Regions from separate parts of the Homo sapiens genome. Here region 2 is linked to region 1. Evidence: fine-mapped expression QTL. A gene starts in region 1. The other region holds a variant in brackets. All regions are shown on one strand. Distances are between the middles of the regions.

Region 1 (2,912 bases):
GAGTTCGAGACCAGCCTGGCCAACATGGTGAAACCCCCGTCTCTACTAAAAAATTTAAAAAAAAAAATAAAATAAAATTTGCCGAGCATGGTGGCACATGCCTGTAGTCCCAGCTACTCAGGAAGCTGAAGCAGGAGAATCGCTTAAACCCAGGAGGCAGAGGTTGCAGTGAGCCGAGATCACGCTGGTGCAACTCCAGCTGGGTGGACAAAGAATCTATCTCAAAAAAAAAAAAAAAAAGAAGAAGGTAGAACTTAGGATGACAAAATGAAGGTGTAAGAAATGGAGGCAAAACTGTGTTCACTGTCTTCTCCTTGCCCACCTCTCTCCCGCCACCATTGCCACTGTGCTTGTCGACTTTGGTTCAGAAGGAGGCCTGGGTTGTAGGGACGGACACCTGGGTGGAGGCTGCGGCTCTGTCATAAACAACACTGTGGTTCTAGGGAAGTCCCTTGACGCCTCTGCTAGGAGGCTTTGTTATAGTCCCTGAGGCTGAGTAACGGTGATGGTGGTGGTTTGGATGGGCAATGTAGGGGAGTCAGAGCTCTGGATGTAAGTCTCTGAGTGAGCTGCTTTGTGACCTTGGGTGAGTCTCAGTGTCTGCATCTGTGAAATGGGGATAAGAACATTCACCATACATGGCTGTGGGGAAGACTCATTCAGATAAGGCACATGAAAAGCACCTTATAAGCTGCCTCAGTCTGTACAAAGACCAATTACGGTACTATTAGGCTGTCTTTCCTGCCCTCAACATCCCCATTCTCAAATCCCAGCTCAGCAGCACAGGGTCAGGGGGGTGCAGGCAGCCAGCGCAGACTGCCAGGAGATGCAGCTTGGCCCCTTAGTGTGCCTGTTGCAATTGCTGCCAGGAGCCTGAGTGGAGCAGAGGGGTGGAGAGAGGGGCACAAGCTCATCTGCGGTTGCTATGGTGCCCCATCCTGGATTTGCCCATCTCTCCTAATGGAGCAAAGGGCAGGCAGAGGGAGGGAGGGAGAAAGAGCACAACTGGTGCCTTCGTCTCCCCTTCCCTCCCATCTCTCTCCCTCGGGAGCAGATGTGGATGGGGGATGGAGGGAGCCTGAATACTGGATAGGAGGGGAGGAAAGAGTGGGGTGCTGGGATTAAGAGGTTTGAGATAGGGGGCCGCACTGAGACAGTAGGGGGCAGGGCCCTCATACCTACATCCAGAAGCCAGCTGGTGACGTTAGAGAGAAGAAAAAAGCAGGCGAGCTGGCACCAGCGTGAGAGGGAGACGGAGAGAGGAAGAAGGAACGCCAGCATAGGAGGCGTGGAGGCCGACAGCCCCCAGACTGCAGCCAGCCTCTGCCTGGGCTCTCCTGAGCCTGGACCCCAGGGTCCTGAGAGCTGCCCCAAGGATGGGCACCAGGGGAGCGGTCATGCCCCCTCCTATGTGGGGGCTGCTGGGCTGCTGTTTTGTCTGTGCCTGGGCTCTGGGGGGTCCACGGCCCATCCGCTCTCTGCCCCCTCTGTCTTCCCAAGTCAAGCCAGGATCTGTACCCATGCAGGTGCCCCTAGAGGGGGCCGAGGCCGCCCTCGCTTATCTCTACTCTGGAGATGCCCAGCAGCTATCACAGGTGAATTGCAGTGAGCGCTATGAAGCGCGTGGGGCAGGAGCCATGCCAGGGCTCCCCCCAAGCCTACAGGGGGCAGCGGGCACCCTTGCCCAGGCCGCCAATTTTCTCAACATGCTGCTGCAAGCCAACGACATCCGTGAGTCCAGTGTGGAGGAGGATGTGGAATGGTACCAGGCACTGGTCCGCAGCGTGGCCGAGGGGGACCCAAGAGTGTACAGGGCTTTGCTGACCTTTAACCCTCCACCAGGGGCCAGCCACCTACAGCTGGCCCTGCAGGCCACCCGGACTGGGGAGGAAACCATCCTGCAGGACTTGTCTGGGAACTGGGTGCAGGAGGAGAACCCTCCTGGGGACCTGGACACCCCTGCCCTGAAGAAGCGAGTGTTGACCAATGACCTAGGGAGCCTCGGCAGCCCCAAGTGGCCGCAGGCAGATGGATATGTGGGGGACACGCAGCAGGTGAGGCTGTCTCCTCCTTTCCTGGAATGCCAGGAGGGACGGCTCCGACCTGGATGGCTGATCACACTCTCTGCCACCTTCTATGGACTCAAGCCAGACCTCAGCCCAGAAGTCAGGTAAGTGGGTTTGTGCAGGATTTGATGCATGTGTGGGGATGTAGGGGAAGGAAGTACAGGTCCCCTCAGCTGTGCCTGGGCCATTTGGCACGAACATGTGCATGCCTGGGGGGCACACAGATGTGGGTATTTGTACTCAGCTGTGTGTACTTACAGTCGGCTCTGGGAATCTGCAACTATCTGTTAACACATACAGGTGTGAGTGTACATGTGTATAAATCAATCCATATTTATCTGGGTTTATGTGCTTGAGCACATGCAGGAATGTCTGTGAGCCTGTGCATATACAAATAGGTATACATATGTAGCATACATCTATATGCAGGTATACACATGTGTGTAGAGATATGTCAGTATAGCTGGGTGCAGTGGCTCACGCCTGTAATCCCAACACTTTGGGAGGCTGAGGCGGGTGGATCACCTGAGGTCAGGAGTTCAAGACCAGACTGACCAACATGGAGAAACCCCATCTCTACTAAAAATACAAAATTAGCTGGGTGTGGTAGCGAGTACCTGTAAACCCAGCTACTCAGGAGGCTGAGGCAGGAGAATCACTTGAACCTGAACCCCAGAGGCAGACGTTGCGGTGACCCGAGATCACGCCATTGCACTCCAGCCTGGGCAACAAGAGCAAAACTCTGTCTCAAAAAAAAAAAAAAAAGATGTGTCAGTATAGACAGGCAGAGGTCTTGGCCCCCAGGCCTGAGAAGGGAGTGCAAGAGGCAGGAGAGGTCTTGGTGTG
Region 2 (2,912 bases), 54 kb before region 1:
TTTGTCAGGGGGACCTGAGCAGCCTATGACTTGGATGACAAAACAAGGTCCTGAAATAACTAATAAATACATCCTACCACATTGCATAAATTCTCTCTTTCCCTTTCCCTTACCCCTTCATTTCCTACCCATTTTTTCCCTGAGGCTCAATTGCTCTAGGGACTGAAAAGGGAAGTAAGCCCCTGGAGTAACCCCTTTTGAACCTGGCAAGAAAGAGCTCTATATTTCTTTCTTTCTTTTTTTTTTTTTTTTTTGAGACGGAGTCTCGCTCTGTCACCCAGGCTGGAGTGCAAAGGCATGATCTTGGCTCACTGCAATCTCCACTTCCTGGGTTCAAGATTCTCCTGTCTCAGCCTCCCAAGTAGCTGGGATTACAGGCATGCGCCACCATGCCTGGCTAATTTTGTATTTTTAGTAGAGACAGGGTTTCACCATGTTGGCCAGGCTGGTCTCAAACTCCTGACCTCGTGATGAGCCCGCCTTGGCCTCCCAAACTGCTGGGATTACAGACGTGAACCATCACACCTGGCCAGAGAGCTCTGTATTTCTGCAGCTTCTGTCAACTGGACAGGGTTGACACAGAAACACAAAGGCCACTGTTGCTTCCACCTTCCGACTTGAGACAGGCACTGTTCTAGCCATTACTCTATAGTCTGACTCCAAACCCCCTGGCATGAAATTCCCCAGGTAACAGCACACATAGACCAAGCAGGCCATTCAGAACTCCCAAATTAAAATCAGCCTGAACAACAAGAAGTCATAAAGGCCAAATTTCATACCCTAAAGACCTTTCCCAATGGGGCACAGTGGCTCATGCCTGTAATCCCAGAACTTTGGGAGGCCAAGGTGGGTGGATCACTTGAGTGAGGTCAGGAGTTTGAGACCCAACTGACAAACGTGGTGAAACCCAGTCTACTAAAAATACAAAATTAGCCAGGCGTGGTGGTGCACACCTGTAATCCCAGCCTCCCACTGGGAGGCTGAGGTGGGAGAATTGCTTGAACCCGGGAGATGGAGGTTGCAGTGAGCCAAGATCACGCCATTGCACTCCAGCCCGGGCAACAAGAGCGAAACTCCATCTCAAAAAAAAAAAAAAAAAAGACCTTTCCCTTGGGAAGTGTTACTTCCTCCCTTTCCAGGGCTCCTAGGGTCTACACCAGGAGCAAGTTCAGCATTACGCTTACTCTTTGTCACAGGCATCAATACTGATGTCACAGCAAAAAGGGATCCTGGGAGTTCAGTTCAAACCTTCGCCAATATATGACTGCCCCCAACACTCAAGACAAATGGCTACCCACTGGCCTGTTCCTGATCATGCCACGTCCTTCCCAGCTGAGGCAGGGCCTTTATACCTCTAGGTCCCCTTGCCCAGAATGCTCTGCTCCAA[G/A]GCACTCCCATGGCTGGCTCCTTGATATTTGGGTATCGGCTGAAATGGCACCTCCTCACAAGTCTCTCCCTGACCATCTAAACTTGAGGAGTATCCCACCACTAATCACTAAACTTTACCCAGTTTTACTTTCCTCACAACACTGTACAGTCACCTGAAATTAGCCCATTCATTTATGTTCATGTTTGCTGCCTGTCTTTCCTTAGGAGAAGGGAAGCTGAGTGAAAACAGGGCCTTTGCTTTGCTCAGCACTCTATTCTCAATTCATACTGGGTGCCAAATAAACACAAATATACAGCTATCTGCTGAATGGAAGCTCTTGAGGAAAACCATCCCAGTTTTGGACCTCTCTGTTAAAAAGGTTCTTGTAAAGTTGGACTGAAATCTAGTTCCTTGTAACTTACATTCATTTTGGTCCTTATCCATGTCTCTTTTTGCTGTGACATGGGAGGGCCTTGGGGCAGAGCATTCTGGGCAAGGGGACCTAGAGGTATAAAGGCCCTGCCTCAACTGGGAAAGGTGTGGCATGATCAGGAACAGGCCGGCAGGGAGCCACTTGTCTTGAGTGTTGGGAGCAGTCATGCACTGGCAAAGGTTTGAACTGAACTCTCAGGATCTCTTTTTGCTGTGACATCAGGATTGTTGCCTGTGGCAAAGAATAAGCGTAATGCTGAACTTGCTCCCCACTGGAACCACAGAGAGGAGGTTAATCACTCTCTTCCTTAGGAAAACCCATCAAATGCATCTTTCAGCTATCCCTCCCTAAAACCTCCGTGCTCTGGGTTAATCACATTTCTTTCTAGGCCATTTATTCCCATATGATGAAGTTTGAGCTCTCCAATGCCACAAGGCCTTTCTCTGAACATGCTCCCTGTTTATATGGGTTCTTCTACAGCACTGCACCCACAGACGTGGTCCTCTAACTGAATGGCCTAATTACTCTTCAAGGGTAGTCAGGTAGGTGGACCTCCCTAGTGCTCTACCTCTCACCCTAATCTCAACTGCAAAGCCATCATGCAGAGAAATCCACCTAGACACAAGACATTAGATATTTAGTCATTTCCAAAGGCATACAATTTGCATATAATTGAAGACATGATGAGACTGTACATCTACTCCAGGATCCACACCAGAAGAAAGCAGTCACTGCACACTGGCAGTCAATCTTGCTTGTCACCACCACCACCAAAGTCATGGCTCCCTGGCAATTGTGTTCCCTACTCAGGAACTTGGCCCCACAATGTTCACTTTAGTGCAATTTAAAAGACTAATTGGAATTCATCTGCACAAACCAGTATTGCAAGATGTTTTATGGGAAAATAAATGGGTAGAACTGTGTAATGATGGGAGAAGAGCCTCGTAGATAAATGAATTCCTTAGTTTCAACAATTTACTTTGTAATGGCCCAAATGGAACGCTAAATAGAAGAGTGGGCTGTTTTTCCTCATCCCCATATTCCAAGCTGTGGGACATGGTGGAGTCTCACTGAAGTGCATGCCTGTTGCAATTAAAGGCATGTTTGCAT

Direction of the effects. Positions count from the first base shown, and alleles are read on the strand shown. Sizes are in standard deviations (SD) of each study's normalised expression.
For the expression in prefrontal cortex of the gene that starts at base 1,210 in region 1, allele G in region 2 goes with a higher level than allele A (moderate effect, 0.48 SD a copy in ROSMAP).

What was found. PIP is the estimated chance that this variant, and not a neighbour inherited with it, causes the effect.
Region 2: its variant is fine-mapped to the expression of GPR179 in prefrontal cortex (ROSMAP, PIP 0.93).

The regions. Positions count from the first base shown.
Region 1 is chr17:38,342,254-38,345,165 of GRCh38, reverse strand. GPR179 (G protein-coupled receptor 179) reads left to right here and starts at 1,210. Exons shown (of 11, transcript NM_001004334.4): 1 at 1,210-2,170. The coding sequence starts at 1,377.
Region 2 is chr17:38,396,430-38,399,341 of GRCh38, reverse strand. All of the region lies in intron 9 of SOCS7 (suppressor of cytokine signaling 7), which reads right to left. Among named protein-coding and RNA genes, the nearest start is that of ARHGAP23, 31 kb to the left of the region's middle. The variant G/A (reference allele first, on the strand shown) is at 1,388.